Linked DNA regions of Homo sapiens. The protein of the gene in region 1 binds, or shares a complex with, the protein of each later gene. Each region holds a gene or a part of one and is shown on either strand. Other genes may lie near its edges. A codon is read from its position in the direction of its gene.

Region 1 (7,124 bases):
CACTTGTATGTTCACTGTAGCATTATTCACAATACCAAAGATACGGAAATCAACCCAAGTGTCCATCAATGGTTGACTGAATAAAAAAATTTTTTTGGCTGAGTATAGTGGCTCATGCCTATAAGCCCAGAACTTTGGGAAGCCAAAGTGGGTGAATTGCAAGAGCCCAGGAGTTTTCAGACCAGCCTGGGCAACGTGGTGAGACCTACTCTCTACAAAAAATACAATGGAAATCAGCTGGGCATGGTGGCGCATGCCTGCAATCCCAGCTACTCAGGACGCTGAGGCAGGAGGACTGCTTGAGCCCAGGAGGCAGAGGTTGCAGTAAGCGGGGATTGTGTGACTGCACTCCAGCCTGGGTGACAAAGCAAGACTCCGCCTCAAAATAACAACAAAAACTCAATCATTTAGGAAAAAAAGGCTGGATTCTGATTCCATACCAAATACCAGAATGACAAAAGTTTTAATGGCCCAAACATAAAAGTCCCAGAAGACAACAATAGATGAACACATACTTTATGAAATCATTGAATGGGAGGTCTGAGGTGGGAAGATTGAGGCCAGAGTTCCAGATCAGCCTGAGCAACATAGTGACATGCCATCTCTTAAAAAAAAAAAAAATTAAGTTATCTGGGTGTGGTGGTGGGCGCCTGTAATCCCAGCTACTTGGGAGGCTGAATCAGGAGAATAGCTTGAATCTGGGAGACGGAGGTTGCAGTGAGCAGAGATTGCGCCACTGCACTACAGCCTGGGCGACAGAGCCAGACTCCGACTCAAAAAAAATAAATAAATAAAATAAAAATCCAGGTATGGTGGTGTATGTCTGTAGCCAGAGCTACTTGGGAGGCATAGGTGGGAGGATCGTTTGAGCCCATAAGGAGGCTGCAGTCAGCTAAGATCATGCCAGTGCACTCCAGTCTGGGTGACAGAGCAAGGCTCCATTAAAAAAGCAACTTACAGCTTCTAACCAATAACAGGACTTAAGATTTTAAGTTAAACAAGAAAATGATCTGCACCTATTTATTGGGTGGAGAAGGTATAATTTACCTTATATGAAGAGGTAACTCAAAAGGAAATACGGGCAAAAAACATAAATAAACAGGAGATGTAAGCTCAACATCACAAATAAAAAAAGCAATGTAAACTTGAGAATGAACTCTACTGAGTCCAGTGTTGGCAAAGGCATGGAGAAACAGACATAAATACATACGCTGTTGTGGGACTTCAAATCTTTTTCTGGAGTGCAACTTAGCAGTATCAATTATATTAAAAAACGGTCCTGCCCTTTGATACAACATTCTACTTAGAAAGTATTTCTATAGCAAAACTATGCTTTTGAAGTCAAAAAATTAGAAACCATCTAAATGTCTATCAGTAAGGAATAGTTAATTATGGTCTACTATACAGCCATCAAAAGGAGGCAGGTCTCCATCTACTAACAAAGATACATGCCCCAGATATATTAGGCCATAAAAGCAAATTATGAACCTATATTGCATATTCTATACCTGGCATACAAAATTACTCAACATATTTGTTGAATGAGTGATCCAATACACAGGATAAATCCTTCAGAAAACAATACATCACAATACATCCATTTAAGTGATATCCAGGGGAAAGGTTTTTCTTTTGTTTTGTTTTTGAGACGGAGTTTCCCTTTTTTTTTTTGCCCAGGCTGGAGTGCAATGGTGAGATCTCGGCTCACTGCAATCTCTGCCTCCCGGGTTCAAGTGATGCTCTTGCCTCAGCCTCCTGAGTAGCTGGGATTACAGGTGCGTGCCACTGCACATGGCTAATTTTGTATTTTTAGTAGAGACAGGGTTTCACTATGTTGGCCAGGCTGGTCTTGAACTCCTGACCTCAAGTGATCCACTGGTCTCAGCCTCCCAAAGTGCTGGGATTACAGGAGTGACTCACCGCACCCGGCCAGGGAAAGGTTTATTATATGGGAGAAGGGGTGCGTTTTTTACATTGTGTGTAAAATTACATATATATGTAAAACCACATATATGTGTGTGTATACATTTATATTGTGTGTGTGTAAAATTACATATATTTTATATATATAAAATTTATATGTATATATAAATTATATATATTACACACAATATAAATATATACACATGTAGTTTTACATATATAATTTATATATTTATATATAAATATAATACATTTATATTATCTAAAATTATATATAACTATATTTTACACACAATATATACACGCATGTAGTTTTACATATACATACATATATACGTATGTTTATATATAAATATAACATTTATATTGTGTAAAATTACACATATAATTTTACACACACAATATAAATATATACACACACATATATGTAGTTTTACAATTTATCACACTACCAATCAGAGTATTTGTGCCTCAGTAACAAGAACAAAAGGCAGGAGGATCATTTGAGGTCCGGAGTTCGAGACCAGCCTGACCAACATGATGAAACCCTGTCTCTACTAAAAATACAAAAAATTAGCCAGGCGTGGTGGTGCATGCCTGTAGTCCCAGCTGCTTGGGAGGCTGAGGCAGGAGAATCGCTTGAACCTGGGAGGTGGAGGTTGCAGTGAACTGAGATCGCGCCACTGCACTCCAGCCTGGGCAGCAGAGCGAGACTCCATCTCCAAAAAAAAAAAAAGGAAAGCGTTTAAGCATTTCATGAGCAGTTAAACCCTTAGGTTATGGCCTAAAAACAGGATATAATTAAACAACTCATTGGAACTTAGTTTCTATACACATAGAGAGTGCCATGGTTAAGTCATTTCTACCACTTTAAACCTAGAAAGGGTAATTTAAGTTAGTGTTTCTCAACCTTTTTTTTTTTTTTACTATTGCTCCTCTAAGAACTCTTTTAAGAACTATTCCCTCCCCACCAGTCCCATGAAATTTTAATACCATAGATATCCTATGTCCTCTGTGCATATCTGTGCTTTAAACAATCAACCAGTAAGATTATTTACACCTACTCACATACACAAACCAATTTTCACCTCCTTAGGGGTAGTTATCTCCCGTGTTAAGAATGTATAGCAATATGGATGGGTGCAGTGGCTCACGCCTGTAATTCCAGCACTCTGAGAGGCTGAGGTGGGTGGATCACCTGAGGTCAGGAGTTCAAGACCAGCCTGGCCAACTTGGTGAAACCCTGTCTCCACTAAAAATACAAAAATTAACTAGGCGTGGTGGCGGGCGCCTGTAATCCCAGCTACTCAGGAGGATGAGGCAGAAGAATCGCTTGAACCCGGGAGGCGGAGGTTGCAGTGAGAGAAGATCGTGCCACTACACTCCAACCTAGGCAATAGAGCGAGACTGAGTAAAAAAATAAAAAATCAAGAATGTACAGCAATAATATATATTTTTGCTTCTTTCAATTGCAGAAATCCTCCCCACCAGCACCAGCTGAGAAAAGTTTATTGTGAAGGTACAGAACCAAGGATGTGTTAAGTATTTCTTCTGATACCTAAAACTCTAATATAAATATAAATACCTACCATTGCAAACTCAGGCTTTCCCTCAACCTTAAATATTGTTTCTAAAGTCAGAGTTTACTTTATCAAAGTGCACATAACAGATATGACCCACACATCTTTACTTCTTTCACCTTTAAGATTCCTACCTCCTTTCTCACTGTCGTAGTGTGACGCATCAAACTGAGCATCATCATTAGGGAGCTGCACACTGGCTATAACAAGATGGTTTTGTTCATCCGATGTGTGTGTCCCCAGGACAAGTCGATGAATGCTGAAATCTTTCCCTTCTGGTCTGTAACGGCAATATATAGTCACTGTTCAAATTAGTAACATCAGGAGACGGCGAAGTCAACAATATACATGTATGTCAAAGTCACTAATACAACCAGGTTTTAAGAGAGGGGAAAAAGTCATTAAGGGTCTTTTCTTTCTTTCTTTTTTTATAAATAGAGTCTCACTCTTTCGCCCAGGCTAGAATGGAGTGGTGCGATCTTGGCTCACTGCAACCTCTGGCTCTCGGATTCAAGCGATTCTCATGCCTCAGCCTCCCGAGTAGCTGGGACTACAAGAACCTGCCACCATGCCTGGCTGATTTTCGTATTTTTAGTAGAGACGGGATTTCACCATGTTGGCCAGGCTGGTCTCGAACGCCTGGCCTCAAATTATCCACCCACCTCAGCCTCCCAACGTGCAGAGATTACAGGCAAGAGCCACCGTGCCTGGCCAAGAGCCATATTTTCTACTTAATTACTCTGGAGAAAAAGTAAAACGTTTTATGGAATAAAATGTGAATTAACTACTCACTCACTACCAACAGGTTGGAGGGAAAGCAAACCATTGTTGGGTATGCTAATAATTTTGCTTACTAAAACTTTCATTAAAAAGGAAAGAAGGGGAAAGGGTGCAAAGAAATTGAAAAGAATGAAAAAAGGGAAAGAAGAGTAAATAACATAAACCAATTTTTCAAACATTTACTAACCGCCTATCAATGGACACATCGCTCCAAACGCGATGGAAGTACAAAGACAATTAAGACATGATTCCTGACCTCAAAAAACCTGCAGCTGGGCCAGGCATGGTGGCTCACACCTGTAATCCCAGCACTTTGGGAGGCCGAAGAGGGTGGATTAATTGAGGTCAGGAATTCGAGACCAGCCTGACCAACATGATGAAACCCGGTCTCTACTAAAAATACAAAAATTAGCCGGGTGTGGTGGCGGTGCCTGTAGTCCTAGCTACTCAGGAGGCTGCGACAGGAGAACTGCTTGAACCCAGGAGGCAGAGGTTGCAGTGAGCCAAGACGGTGCCACTGCACTCCAGCCTGGGCGAAAGAGCAAGACTCTGTCTCAAAAAACAAACAAAACAAAAAAAACCGGCGGCTGGCTAATCCCAGCTACTTGGGAGGCTGAGGCACAAGAATCGCTTGAACCCGAAAGGCGGAGGCTGCAGTGAGCAGAGATCGTGTTACTGCACTCCAGCCTGGGTGACAGAGAAAGACTACTTCCTGTCTCAAAAAAGAAAAAAATAAATAAAAGAAAGAAAATTAAACAATTTGCCTAAGATCACACAGCTACTAAGTAACAAGTATGCTGAAGTCCAAATCTGACTTCTGATATGGGAAAGCACAGTGGGAGAGAAGGCCGATTAAAACTGACTATTTAGTGTTCTGAATGCCGTCTTAAGGCATTCTGTACTCCATACTGGGTCAAGGGCATCCACATCATCTGGGAACTTGTTAGAAACGCAAATTCTCACATCTACTCCAGACCCATTGAATCAGAAACTCTAGAAGGTGGGGCACAACTAACTGTTTCACAGTACCTCCAGCTGATTATGATGCATATAAAATTTTGAGAACCCCTGGCCTAGATGGGAAAGATGCTACACAACCAGAATTCATTGGGGTTTATAAATTGACTGCCTATAAAATGGAGAAAGAGAAAATGTCAAACTAAAGCCAATTATGATGAAAAGAAATAGGAACAACAGGAGAGAAAGTTGGGGTAAGGCCTTCACGTAAGGAATAATTCCATTTACAACATGTCAAACTGGGGAAGCCAGTAAGATATACCAGGGAAGACACGGGCAGGCAGAAGAAAAATCAGGAAAAGCTCTGGAGAAGTGAGGTCTAAAGATATCAATAGGAATTCTTCTGCACAGATGTCACAGGCAAAGCTCTGAGAGCTTCTACATTACACTGAAAAGAAATGAAGAGAGATATGAACAGAAAATTGGAATTACCTGTATGTAGAAGGTTAGACAAGAACCAGAAAAAGAATGAAGGAGAGGACAGTGTTACAGAACTACAACCGTGGTTTTTCTTTCTTTTTAAAGGGGGGAAACGGATCTGGGTAAACACCAGAAAAAGAACACACACAAAAGTAAACACTGCATCAGGGCTGCTTGCTTGTAAGTAATCCTCATCTTAAAAAACAAAAACAGGGCCAGGCACGGTGGCTCATGTCTGTAATCCCAGCACTTTGGGAGGTCAAAGTGGGAGGATCACTGGAGCCCAGAAGTTAAAGAACAGTCTGGACAACATAGCAAAAAAATTTTTCAAAAATTAGCCAGGTATGGTAGCGTGTGCCTGTAGCCCCAACTATTCCAGAGGCTGAGGCAGGAGGATTCCTTGGCCCAGGAGGTCAAGGCTGCAGGGAACTCTGATCGTGCCACTGCAACACAGTCTGGGCAACAAAGCAAGATCCTGTCTCAAAAACAATTTTCAGCCAGGTGCACTAGCTCACGCCTGTAATCCCAGCACTTTGGGAGGCCGAAGCGGGTGGATTACCTGAGGTCAGGAGTTCAAGACCAGCCTGGACAACATGGTGAAACCCCATCTCTACTAAAAATACAAAAAATTAGCTGGGCGTGGTGGCGGGTGCCTGTAATCCCAGCTACTTGGGAGGCTGGGGCAGGAGAATCGATTGAACCCAGGAGGCGGAGGTTGCAGTGAGCTCAGATCATGCCACTGCACTCCAGTATGAGTAACAAGAGTGAAACTCCGTCCTCCGTCTCAAAACAACAACAACAACAAAAAACAATTCTCACATTATTTATCTAGATTTGCTAATGCAGAAAACTACTAAGATGACAGTACAGATTTCAGCCTTGGGGAATTAAGTCTTTAATTCTTGCTTTCGAAACCTAGCTAGTCATTCTATTATATTACTTGGGAAGTTTCTGAAAAGTAGGGGTTCTAGAATGTTTAGTAGGTATGGGATGGCCAATATTTGTGATCCACTAGTCCAATAAGCACAATTTAGCATATGACTATAGTAAATGTGGAATCACCATTCCAGTACACTTCTCATTAAGTACTCTGCCACAAGTTCTTTTTCTTTGAGACAGGGTGGCAATCCCTAGCTCAGGCTGGAGTGCAGTAGCAGGATCACAGCTCAATGCAGCCTTGACCTCCCAAGGCTCAGGTGATCCTCCTGCCTCAGCCCCCACTGAGGAGCTGGGACTAACAGGTACGCACCACCATGCCCGGATAATATTTGTAATTTTAGTAGAGACGGGCTTTTCACCATGTTGCCCAGGCTGGTCTGGAACTCCTGGCCTCAAGCAATCTGCCTGCCTCAGCCTCCCAAAGTGCTGGGATTACACGTGTGAGCCACCATGACCAGCCCATAA
Region 2 (7,000 bases), on another chromosome or scaffold:
CGGATAGAGTTTCTTGAGGGAGAGCACATGCAAAATGCAGCTACTATTGTACTGGTCAACTATTTTCAATTCAATCACTATAAAAATTACAGACTATAAAAATTACAGAATAAATATATGAATGCTTTGACTAAAGCATCTGAGCCTTTAGATTCTAGAAAATGGCAAAACAGCATATCTGCCTTTTGGTAATCAAAGGAAATAAACATTTTCATATATAAGGATCAGTGCCCAGCATATAGCTGGTAGTTAATAAATGAACGAATGAATGATATTATGAAATAAAGTGAATTTGCAAAAGGGCCTGACCATTTTCAAACTAATCTATATAACATGATCAAGTAACAAGAAAAATATGACTTAGGATTGCAAAATGCTAGTGTTTCTTATAACAGTAACAGTCCAGCTGGGTTGGGACTTTATGTCAAAATGCTGGTACTAAAATGTATTATAATTATATCCCTTATCTGTAGGTTTTCAGGCCCTTTTGCTTTCTGTCACTTCTGGCAGTTTCTGGAGTGTTTAGGTATTATATCTTACAATAAATAAGAAGCATTTTTGGTGGACTAATTAAAAGAAATTTAAAAAGAAAAAACCATGGCCAGGTGCAATGGGTCACACCTATACAAATCCCAGTAATTTGGGAGGCTGAGGTGGGAGGATTGCTTGAGCTCAGGAATTTGAGACCAGCCTGGGCAACATAGTGAAACCCCATCTCTACACAAAATTGAAAAATTAGCCTGGCATAGTGGTGAGTGTCAATAGTCCCGGTTATCCAGATGCCTGAGGTGGGAGGATCACTTGAGCCCAGCAAGTCGAGGCTATAGTGAGCCGTGATTGCACCACTGCACTCCAGTCTTAGCAGCTGAGTGAGACCCTGTCTCAAAAACAAAGAAACAAGTAACAAAAAACCAAAAACCTTGATACTCAAGTTATCTCTAATCAACAAGGATGGAAGAATGGGAAATCAAGGGTTAAAAAAAAATACTAGCCACCCCTTATGGATGTCTCTAAGTAAAAATGAAATGTCTACTCTAGCTAGTTTACCTTTAATGTTAAAAACTGGAAACTTCATTTTTATCCCCATTGAATAAAAATCCACTTACCCCTTTTACAATGAAGAAATGGTACCTATAGTCTTTAAGTGATGTTCTTAAGTTCATGGAGGTAGGCTCTAGGAGCCTCTGTAGATGGTGGCTGCTTTAACTTCAGTTGAGAAAGAACATTTATTTTACCTATTACCATACATAATATCTCAGAACTTTTTACTAAATTGAATATTATTTAATGATTTGTATTATCCCATTGACACAATGTTTTTCCCAACTTCCTTGGGATATTATTACATTTGCTGTTAAGACAAACCCAGACATCTTACCCAAATAGAAAATCATTTCCAAATGTACAAACTAATATGGTCACATTGCAGGTCAGGCCACATACAAAATGAACTAATGGATCAGGCAATTAGACCACAGTGCCCAATAAATATGGTAATAGGAAGTTTCTTTATTTTTAATTGACCTGAATGAACAATCCGGTTGAGTGTGGATGTCAAACAAAAAAGTACCGACTTCCTTTATTTTGTAACAAAAACACTGAGGCTCTTTTAATTGCTATTTATGGACCCTTAAATAGATTTATTTTTAGTTACCATAGTGCTGATACAATGTTGTAGAGCCTAATAAATTTGAGTACCATTCATTCACTCATTCATTTGTTGAATTTAAATTGACAGGTTTTATTTCCAAATCTGCCAGTAAGTTGGTGTAGACCTTTGGCAACTCACTTCCTTTCTGATCCTCATTTTACTATTAAATTACAACATGAGATGACTTGCTAATTAACTACACCTAACAATTTACTAGACATAGAAGGGGACAAAAAATAGAATTCACTTTTCAGAAAAATCTTAAAATATAATTACATTGACAAAAGTATAGACACGGAAAATGACTCTGAGGTAATACATAAATATTTGTAAACAAACATGATGAACTAACTGTACAAAAGTAAGAGAATTGCAAAGTCAAGGAAAGATAAGTGTAGGATGGGGCTTGTCATAAAATTTCTATACAGAATGCAGCTAAATTAATTGCTTTCTTGCTTAACTATTTTGGATTTGGTCATAAATACAGTAAAGATATGAACATTTTTAGAAAGGCATCTGACCCCATTTGGATTCTAAAATATTTCAAAGATAGAATATTTGCTTTTTGGTAATCAAAGGAAATGTACGTTTCATGCATAATGTAACCATGATGCTGTACTATGGGAAAATCTGTACCTGCGATTTGGACTTTCTGTGTAACGGCTGCTTAAGTTCCTCTGGCACATGGGAAGTACTAAAAGAAGACAGCTCAGCTTCAGAATATTGATTATCTTCCATTTTCCTCATTTTGAGGCTATCTGTGAAGTGCCTTATATGATCTAGAGCAGAAAGTCCACTTTTATATTCTTCCTCTTTATACCTAAAATGAACCAACGAAAAACACAGAAATTTTCTTTTCATTTGTTATCTAATCAAATCACTTTCATTTGAATCTATCTATACAACTGACAAACTTCATATTGTATCTGCAAGGTAAAGTAGCATGCATCAATTATTGGGTTTTTATAAATACTTACAAACATCATGTCTTAAAAATATATTTCTGTTAAGATTTTTAGTAACTAAAGCCAAGCATATATTTGAGATAAAGAGTTAAAGTCAGTGACACATTAGTCAGTAATAGGCAGAGACAGAATTCATATATTCATTATTTCCATTTAAAGTAAAGCTAATTATGACAATATTTAGTCAACATCCATCATGAAAATATAATAGTCCCATCAATTTAACTGTTTGGTTATTTCTTTTCATTTAAAAAGTTATCATCTATATAGATCACATATATATCTACTGAAGTGAAGTTTATCTCAATTATACTTAACTGATGACCATGCCAGATTATTGTATAATTAGATAACGTCAAAATCTCTATTTTTCTTTGAGTTTTATAGGTAGAGTCTAACAATAAATGATTGTGTACTTATGTAATTTTCATTTTATCTTTCCCACCTCAGGTTAATCAGAGTTGCACCAAACCTGATGTATTTATATGCTTGTGGATTATGTTGATAGCCACCTTATTTTCATCTATTTAAATCTGATCCACCATGTATCCCTTACTAATTCAAGTTTAATTTTTGTGATTTATAACTCACAAATTGCTTATCACAGGAGGAATTGCAACCGTACATGGATCTACTCTAGCTTAGTTTCTAAAGTCACCCAAGGTACTCACCTCACTGGGGATGTCTTGCAACTCATCTCCAGGGCACTGGTTTCTTCATAGTCATCCTCAGGGTTTCCTTCATGTAAATTACTTGTCACTGGTTCCTTTCCTGTTTTTCCAGTAATATCATTGTCTTCATCCTCCTCATCTAACAACACCTCATCTTCAACTTCTTCATCATCCAGCAAGTCTGAATTTTGACTGGTCACCAAAGCCTTTTCATCTTTAAAATGACTGCCATTCATTCTTTCAAAAGCATTAAAAAAAAAGTCCAATTGTTGGTTTCATTTTTAAAATTGTAATTTGTTCCTTTATTATGTCTTCCCAACAACAGTTTAGATTTTCAACACTTAACATCGGAAATGTTTTATTGTTTATGCTCTACGTCAACCATGAAAAAATAATGTGACTTCACAAATGGGAAGATAAAGAAAAAAATAATTGTATGATTGTTCAGATTATAAATGAAGCCTCTGGCAGAACCCGAAAAACAATCTTGGTCTCCCATTTCTTATCAGACTTTGCTTGATAATTGATATTGCTATATATATCATATAAAAAGGCACATAAGTATGTTCTCAGCACAATTTACCTAATTGCCATGTAAGTACCCACCATTTAAAATAATAGATTTCTGGAAAATTCATATCACTCATGGGCCGTAGCTACAATACACATGCCTAAAGTGACTCTAAAAGTCCAAAGACAATGTTAAAGTAGTTACCAAGAAACAACTGGTATTTACTGATACTAGATGACATTTGTGGTACATTCCACCTAACCACTCTACCCATATTTGGAAGTAATTGACAGCTCACTTATTTGTACTATTTTCAAATTATTTTTTACAGTCTGAATGTGAAATAGTTCCTTGTTTCTCAGGAAAACGCCAGGGTGGAAAAAGCTCAGGTATTACAATGTACCCCCATCACTTTCCCACATAACAAAAATGAGTATAATTTAATATTCAGATTTCCCAGGATTAAAAAATAAATAAAACAATCTTGGATGTGACAAACACACATAGTAAAAATCCATTTGACCAGAAAAAGTCATATCATTATTAAGCTTTTAATAAAAACAATCGCTTAACCTCTTTTATCAAAGAATGGTGAAAACATCTTTTGCACAGACATAAATTAGTTTCCAAACACACTGCCAACTTGCTTGCATGAGTGGATTAAAATTTTTATTTAAAAAAAAGAAAGAAAAAGTAAAAGAACAAAAAGAGTGCATGGATGAAAATCAAAAGTAACAAAAGCCAACATAATTAAGAAAATCTATTTGTTAATTAAGTTTTCAAATGTGGCAATTTACAGAGAATAAATTATTCATCAAAAGTAGCCTGGTAGGAGTTCAGGGGAAAAACTTAGATGACTCAACCTTCTTATTTCTGTGCTGTTTAGACATGCTGAAGCCAGATGTTGCAACTATACAGGCTCACAAATCGCCAATTAAAGGCTAGAAAATTTGAATAGGCATCTCAGAACCCAAATGGTGTGTTTTGTTCAACAGTTCTTATTTGCATCAAGTAAATATCATTATCAAAGTATAAGATCGTCACTGTTTCTTGCTTGTTCTTGCTACTTTGTCCTTCTGATCATCTGCTTCCTCTCTCCCTTTCACAAACAGACAGACAGACACGCACACACACACACAAATGGGCAAGTAAAGGGAAAGGTACATCCAACTGCACACTGGTGTAGTTATCAGACTTCTCAGAGACTGGAAGGGTCTTTTTTCTTGTTTTTCTTTGATACACTTTTATACAAGTTGAAAAACAGAAGTGGTCATTTTTTTTGTTATTTTAGTAAAAAATGTTTATTTGATGTTTGCCTTGAAAAAATTACATAAAATAATTAATTTTGACTTTTGATAACATCAAAAACAGAGGACACTAATCCAATAATACTTGTATGATGAAAAATAATGGAACTTTTAACTAATTTCATGTTATTTTGAAATTTACAATGTAGCATCTGAATTTAATAGGTCACTATATAGTCGTGTTCAGAAAAGTCTACTTCTCAACAATAGATATTTAATTATAGCTTACAGATAAGAAAAATTAAATCCAGTAGTTTTGGTGAAATAGTGTTTCATTAACTTCATATGCAATGTGAAGTGCTGGGTAACTGTTAAGTATTATCATTAACAGCATTAAAAGCTTTTTTAAATGAATTAAGCTATTCATGCTTAATGTTGGTGATGATAAAAGGGAGCCAGTGCATCAGGGCAGTAAAAACAAGGATGTTCATACCCACTGAAACAAACAGACCAGAATTAAATGAGTAGTCACTTAAGAGGACATAAAGTAGCAATAGAATCTTAAGAAGACTATAAAAGCTTCTATGTAAAATATATTTGGGGGAAACTCCATGGGTATTTCATATATAAATGCATACATACATATGTACTATAATATGTATATTACATATATACAGAATATACATATATGTATTTATGTATAATACAGGTATATAGAATCATATATTACCTGTAATATATATAATTTATGATGTATAATAGTAGCCACTATTGATCAGTGATTCAACTGAATCCCTGTGACGGCTTTCTCTTCTACTTCTGAAATTTTGATAACAGATTCTATTCAGCTATCAGATAGCTAAATCCTGGTAAAATTATGGGCTCTGGAACCAGAGAGCTCAGGTTGAATCCCATTGATTACTTATGTGACCTCTGACACAATGGTTTAAGCTTCAATGTCTCCATTCCTTCACTGCTAAAATTATAGTGGCTATCTCATAGGGTTATGATGAAATTAAATTAATTAACACATGTAAAATGCTTGGAAGCATTTAATGTGGTATTTAATATGTACTAAATATATACCAGTCTTTGGTGACTGAAGTAATAGTAGTGCCACAAAAGTGAGCATAGCAAGTATATTTTAAAACATGTTCATTTCAGTCGTCACAGAGTTTAAAAAGTAAAAGACAGCTTTACCTCTCCTCCACATTCCTGGGAGATTGGCTGCCATGGTTGCTGTTCCCAATGAAATTTCGAATTTCTGTGAAGTAAGCATCTTCTTTGTCATCCAGAATCGCACCTGTACTTTCCAGTTCAGAATGAGGCGACGATGTTGCTGTACCTGTGTGGAGCAGAAAGCCTTTTATGACAAAGATTATTGTTTATCTAGCAACTTATTTGGAAACTCACTCCTTATGAATTTGATCAGTGCTGTTTCTTAAAACATGCCCTATGAATATTAATAATAATAACTTTAGAAAGTCAAAGTCTCCCCAGTTTACCATAATACACATGCCCATGACGGTCCTTTGGGAATATATTGAACCACTGAAATCATGAAGTACAGTCTCGCAAAGAAGGTGCTTCTCTCACTAGCTTTTCCTTACCTCTATTGTGACATGAGAATATTTGTATTCACATAATGAGAATTTAGAGTGAGACAAATTATGAACAAGTTTTAAATAGATTCTGCCAAGAGACACTCTATATGAAGTCCTGGTTGCAGTCAACATGCCTTTTTATTTATTTATTTATTTTTTGGCTACTATGCTAAAGCATATAACAAAATACAGTTTAAAGGCACACTGAAAATTCTGCATCCTGGTTTGCTGGGCGAAGCTGTGAGTTGACTCAGAACACTCCAGTCCAGGGGTTGGTGCAGTATTAAAAGGACAATATTAGATATGCTGATTACAGGATGATCTTCCCCTTCCTTGCCTATGCACTGCAAG
Region 3 (5,508 bases), about 190 Mb from region 1:
GTTTCTACTAAAAATACAAAAATTAGCCAGGCGTGGTGGCGCGTGCCTGTAATCCCAGCTACTCAGGAGGCTGAGGTGGAAGAATCCCTTGAACCCAAGACCTGGAGGTTGTGGTGAGCTGAGATTGCATCACTGCACTCCAGCCTGGGCGACAGAGAAAAAAAAAAAGAAATGTAAAAGAAAAAATGCACAAAATACCCAATTCTAGGCAGAATATATTAAAATCAACCTTTCACTAGGTCTATACCAGGCCAAATAACTTACCTGCTTAATACCATACCACTGGATGGTATGGTAATAAATAAAATCCGTATCACTGGATGGTATGGTATGGTAATAAATAAAATCCATACCATTGGATGGTATGGTACTTCAGAGAGACTCGGTAATCTGTACTGTTTCCCCTAAAAATATAACTTAATGGAAATTACAATTCTTCAAAACTTTTTAAACAGAAGGAATGCATATTGACTTGAATTAAATGAAAATATAGAAAATAATAATTTTCATAGATCAATTTATTTAGAATTACAAATATTAAGAATAGAAGATTTATGCATTTCTTAATTAACATAACAGTTTAGCTAAATATAAACTCTGCACTAAAGTTCTGCAGTGGCACAATACCAACAAAGAATACGGAAGCCTTTTTAAACTATACAAAAATTTCAAATGGAAAATAATCTTGTTTCAGTTTTATTATACATTAACATATAAAAAGTCTCATTTTATGAGACATCTAAAGGAATTAAAACCACCTCTACAGCTATATCTTAAACTCCAAATTTGAAAAAAATTTATATTTTGAGTTTATAATATTCTATTAAAACGAAGAAAATTCCAAATACATACTTTTTACAAGATTAACATTTTAGGCAGCGTTTTCCTAAAAAAGAAAAACAACCAAAACAAGCCTTTCTTCTGCATTTCACAGCACTGGTTATTATATTTGTTTTCCTTATAAAATCTTTTTACTTTATAAATTGTGTACTGTTGGATTTTAACCAGTAATCTGGTTTAAAAGTTGTGCAAATAAACAAAAAAATATGAAAATAGTGTGTTATCATTTTTTTTTTAATAAATCTCACAACAATGCACTTTTGACCTGAACTGATGGGAAGACATGCCAAATCCATTTTTAGAAATTTAGCATTTTGCACCTTTTTTCCCCCTGTTCCTTCATTTTCTTTCAACAAACAACAAAGGTTTCTTTTATATGTTATGATAAATTAAAATATTTATTATTATAAAATGATCTACAGAACCATGTCACATTGCAAGTATATATAACATATACTTGTAAAGTCCACATTTCCCATCTATATTTCAGTGGTTTCCTTAAAACTAGGACTTCCCACACCTCATGATGTTATCTTTTGAAGACTGAGATGGTGATCAACTAAATCAAGTGGAGTTGTAATTTTCTGGATGGAATTTCCACACTGCCACCGACATGAATAAAAAGACCAGGTTTCTTCATACTCTCCATTGCAGCAGTTGTCTGCATGTGTTGCGGTGAATTCATGCACATTAAAAAAAATGGTCAATGTATTCTTCCACGAAATTATATTATGTTCAGATATTTCAGTTTAAAAATATTTGTGAATATAAACATATGTAACATAAGCAATGCTACTGCATCTGAATAATAAAAGAAAAATAAATATAATGCTGGTCAGCAATGCTGGTTTAAGAAGCAGTACAGTCTATTAAAATGCCTTATTTGGAGATTTAAATTTCCCTTGTTTTCCAGCAGTTAGGTTATTTGGTGTTGGAAGCCTATATAAAGGAAAAGAACTTCTCAAAAACAATGTCCCGTGCAGTTGGAATAATGAAATCTTTACTCAGTCTCTGTTGGTGTTATTTGCTGCAAAGGCATGTAAGTTTCCCATCTGGCTCAGGCCACTCTGAATATGTGCAACATGGATTTCTACATTATTCTGAAAGCAACTAAAGAAAGAAGAAACATGGTTAACTACTTTATTTCAAAAAATTAAGAAAAAAATTTTTAAAAGAAGACCTGAATTTTAGTTAGGAAACAGCTATGATAAATCTTAGGGAAGGAATAAATCTCCTCTAATATATTAGCCATAATTCTACTTCAGTAGTAGTTGAACAAATATGCTCTAAAGAAGCAAAGGAGCCACGGGGGGCTGGAAGGAGAAGATGAGTCTCTCACTGACTGGGGAAGCTCTACCTCTAAGCTCAACCTCCATGCTGACCCCAAACCTAAATATATGTCCTGATTTCTTTATATACAAAATCCATGTGAAATTTCTATTCTGTCCATAGGCTGGATATAAGTGAAAAGCTCTTACAAATATATTTAACGGATAATAATATATGAGTACTTCACAAATATGCATAATTCTTAAAACCTGGACTGAAAATTACTATGAACTTCACATTAAAATGATTAGAGTATACCTAACGAATTACCTGATATTAGAAGCGTCTATTGTACTCTTGATATCATTTAATGAGTCTGTAAGTGATTTGAATTCAAAGGAATTCAGGTCTCCTCCTTCTGCTAGACACTAAAGGGAAAAAAATTTCAAAATTTAATTGCATTATAGCTCAAATATAGTCATAAAATACCTGATATAATCAATGAATTAATTTCTTAGCAACAAATTAGCGTGGGTTGCTTTGTGTCAAATTAAGAAAATATTTTCTCTAAGATTTACCTTAATTTGTAACAAAATAGCTGTAAGCCTGGAAATTAAGTCTGTCAGATTTTCATTTTCAACGCAGGGCTGTCCTGTTGAGGAATTTGCATGCCGAACAATTTCCTGTGCTTCTTCCTCACACCTGCGTCTCATATCTGTTGGCTGATCTGCAGGCTGGAGCCCCTGGTCTGGAGCAAGCTGAATACAGATGATTGAAGCATGAGACGCATGTTCGAGAAGCCATGATTATTTCTGTATGTGTTTGTGCCCTCTTTTCAGATTTTAATTTTTATAAAACTAGCATTTAAAACTAAAGTGGTACTCTTACCTTAGAAGTTTTTTTCCTTTAACAGTTTCTGATTTTCTATTTTTTGTAATTTTTAATTTTGATATAATTTCAAACTTCTAAAAAAAGTTAAAAGAATAAAACAAAGAACTCTTGATAACATTTACTCAGATTTACTGTTTATGTTTTACTACATTTGATCTGCCATTTGATCTCTGTGAATGTATAATTCTTCCCGTTACTAATTTAAGAATAAGTTGCAAACACTGTGCCTCATTACCTCTAATCACTCCAGTTTGTATTTCCTTGGTATTTTTGAAGAGTACGAGCCAATTATTTTGTGTAATATCCCCCAATGTGGGTTTGTTTGTTTCCTTATGATTAGACTGAAGTTATGCATTTTTGGGCAGAAATACTACAAATGTGGTGCTGAGTTCTCTGGCATCTTTATTAGAAGGCACGTGATGTTGACCTGTCCCATTACTGGTGATGTTCTCTTTGATCAATTGGTAAGTTAAGTGTCTGCCAGATTTCCCTACAGTAAAGGATTTCCTTTTTGTAAGTACTAAGTAGTTGTGAAGAGATACTTTGAGGCTATGTAAACATCCTATTTGTCATCAAACTTTTACCTACCAATTTTAGCATCTGTTGATGATTCTTGTCTATATCAATTATTACTATGATGGTTGCAAAATGGTGTTTTTCTCACTCTTAACACTGCTTCTATATTTATTAGTTGGCATTTTACTACAAAGTAGTTTCCCTTAAAAAATGAACTAGTATCAGTATGAACCCATACTGACATAACTTTTATTCTATGGGTTATAATCTCTTACTATATTTATTTATTCTGAAGCTCAAATTGTCCCAGATTTGGCCAGTGGGAACCCTGTCAAGCTGGCCCTTTTTGACACGTCCCCGTAATTTGGGGGCACATTTTACTTCCTTGGCATAATAAGGTGGGCCGGGCTCATCTTCTTTCTCTGCCTCAGGTCTGGAATCAGTCTCTTTTTCAAGAAGTCCTGCTTTTTTAAATTGGAGAACAGAGATAAGAGACCAAGATCTGGGTCTAGTGTGTTCTTTGCTATTAGGGTGTCTTTGCTTTTGGCTCTCTCAGCAGACATATACACTCACTTATACATATAGCATAAAGATAAAATAAACCATGAATTCATACTGATTCCCCCTATTCCCATCTAATGCCACAGGGTTCACTCTAGTCTTCCCCCTCTTCATAACTGCCTTCTTCAACAGTGAGAAACCTGGCTCGCGTTATCCTAAATTTTTTTTTTTTTTTTTTGAGACAGTCTCACTCTGTTGCCCAGGCTGGAGTGCAGTGGTGCGATCTCAGCTCACTGCAACCTCTGCCTCCCAGGTTCAATATACTTATTTGCTTCTTTGCTCAGTCCTAGAGTACACAGTAAGAGTTTCAGAACTGCTGCTGGGTGTGGTGGCTCATGCCTGTAATCCCAGTACTTTGGGAGGCCGAGGTGGGTGGATCACCTGAGGTCAGGAGTTCAAGACCAGCCTGGCCAACATGTCTCTACTAAAAATATAAAAATTAGCTGGGCATGGTGGTACATGCCTGTAATCATAGCTACTGGGGAGGCTGAGGCAGGAGAATCGCTTGAACCCCGGAGGCAGAGGTTGCAGTGAACCGAGATTGCGCCCCTGTACTCCAGCCTGGTGGACAAGAGCGAAAATCCGTCTCAAAAAAAAAAAAAAAAAAAAAGAGTTTCAGGACTGCTATGCATGCCACCAAGAGAAAAAATTCTACTAACTAGAGTTCAATGTTTATTTAAATTTTGGTTCAGACTAAAGGTATACAGTCAAAATATAAGTTGAGTATCCCTTATCCAAAATGCTTGGGACCAGAAGTGTTTTGGATTTAGGATTTTTTAAAATTTTAGAATATTTGCATTATACTTACCGGTTGAGAATCCCAAATACAAAACTCCAAAATCCAAACTGCTCCAGGGAGCATTTCCTTTGAGTTTCACTTTGGCACTCAAAAAATTTTGGACTTTGGAGCATTTCAGACTTGGGATGCTCAACCTATGCTATGTTCAAGCTATCTGAATCAGTTTTTATCCCCTTCAGTAAGTTTATGTCACTCCTTTGAAATATAGTTAGGTTCATTTATTTCTGTTTGCATTTACTTGTATTTGTTGGGGAAACAAACACTCAGAAAAATGTCATTCCTTCTTGCTCACCAACTCCTACCCCATTCCCAAATTAGTTTCTAATGTATCCTTTCTGCTTCCTTTTGAAAAATTAAGCTGATACATATACATTGTATTTCCACTTATTTCCTACTCCAAAGGTTATACTTTGGAATATGTATGTGTATTTTCGTATTTGCTTTTTGCATCTAATAACATATCCTGGAAATCACTCTGTGTCAGTAAATAGAGAACTTCCTCTCTTACAGCAGCATAGTATTCAATTGTGTGGATGTACCATAAATAGTCAGTTCCCTATGTGTGGGCATTTATGTTTATTTCTAATATTTTTTAATTACCAATAATGCTTCAATGAATAACTGTATCCTTT

What was found. Proteins that work in one complex are often made in the same cells at the same time.
Region 2: the proteins of RBBP4 (region 1) and MECOM are in contact, whole or in part, in a crystal structure (PDB 6BW3), measured with the Homo sapiens proteins. Residues at the interface, in NP_005601.1 of Homo sapiens: Ala39, Leu40, Glu41, Trp42, Pro43, Leu45, His71 (codon at 3,737), Thr72 (codon at 3,734), Ser73 (codon at 3,731), Asp74 (codon at 3,728), Glu75 (codon at 3,725), Glu126, Asn128, Arg129, Glu179, Tyr181, Asp198, Val229, Glu231, Asp248, Glu275, Asn277, Phe321, Glu395, Asn397; in NP_001353395.1 of Homo sapiens: Met1, Arg2, Lys4, Gly5, Arg6, Ala7, Arg8, Lys9, Leu10.
Region 3: the proteins of RBBP4 (region 1) and LIN9 are in contact, whole or in part, in a crystal structure (PDB 7N40), measured with the Homo sapiens proteins. Residues at the interface, in NP_005601.1 of Homo sapiens: Ala11, Glu14, Arg15, Val16, Ile17, Asn18, Glu19, Glu20, Tyr21, Lys22, Ile23, Trp24, Lys25, Lys26, Asn27, Pro29, Phe30, Leu31, Tyr32, Asp33, Thr37, Ala39, Leu40, Glu41, Trp42, Pro43, Glu75 (codon at 3,725), Pro87 (codon at 3,689), Asn88 (codon at 3,686), Asp89 (codon at 3,683); in NP_001353174.1 of Homo sapiens: Phe107, Arg108, Asn111, Leu112, Lys114, Leu115, Lys117, Ala118, Lys120, Trp121, Ile123, Tyr124, Glu125, Trp126, Phe127, Tyr128, Leu135, Phe136, Asp139, Asn140, Asp141, Phe142, Cys143, Leu146, Arg156, Lys157, Leu158, Thr159, Arg160, Val161.

Annotation. Positions count from the first base shown.
Region 1 is NC_000001.11:32,654,086-32,661,209, reverse strand, and holds part of RBBP4 (histone-binding protein RBBP4), read right to left. Parts: intron 3,784-7,124; coding exon 3,638-3,783; intron 1-3,637. UniProt on the Homo sapiens protein: Core histone-binding subunit that may target chromatin assembly factors, chromatin remodeling factors and histone deacetylases to their histone substrates in a manner that is regulated by nucleosomal DNA.
Region 2 is NC_000003.12:169,086,713-169,093,712, forward strand, and holds part of MECOM (histone-lysine N-methyltransferase MECOM), read right to left. Parts: intron 6,391-7,000; coding exon 6,246-6,390; intron 3,525-6,245; coding exon 3,288-3,524; intron 2,472-3,287; coding exon 2,288-2,471; intron 1-2,287.
Region 3 is NC_000001.11:226,230,657-226,236,164, forward strand, and holds the end of LIN9 (protein lin-9 homolog), read right to left. Parts: intron 2,868-5,508; coding exon 2,688-2,867; intron 2,538-2,687; coding exon 2,440-2,537; intron 1,951-2,439; coding exon 1,845-1,950; 3' UTR 501-1,844; downstream 1-500. UniProt on the Homo sapiens protein: Acts as a tumor suppressor. Inhibits DNA synthesis. Its ability to inhibit oncogenic transformation is mediated through its association with RB1. Plays a role in the expression of genes required for the G1/S transition.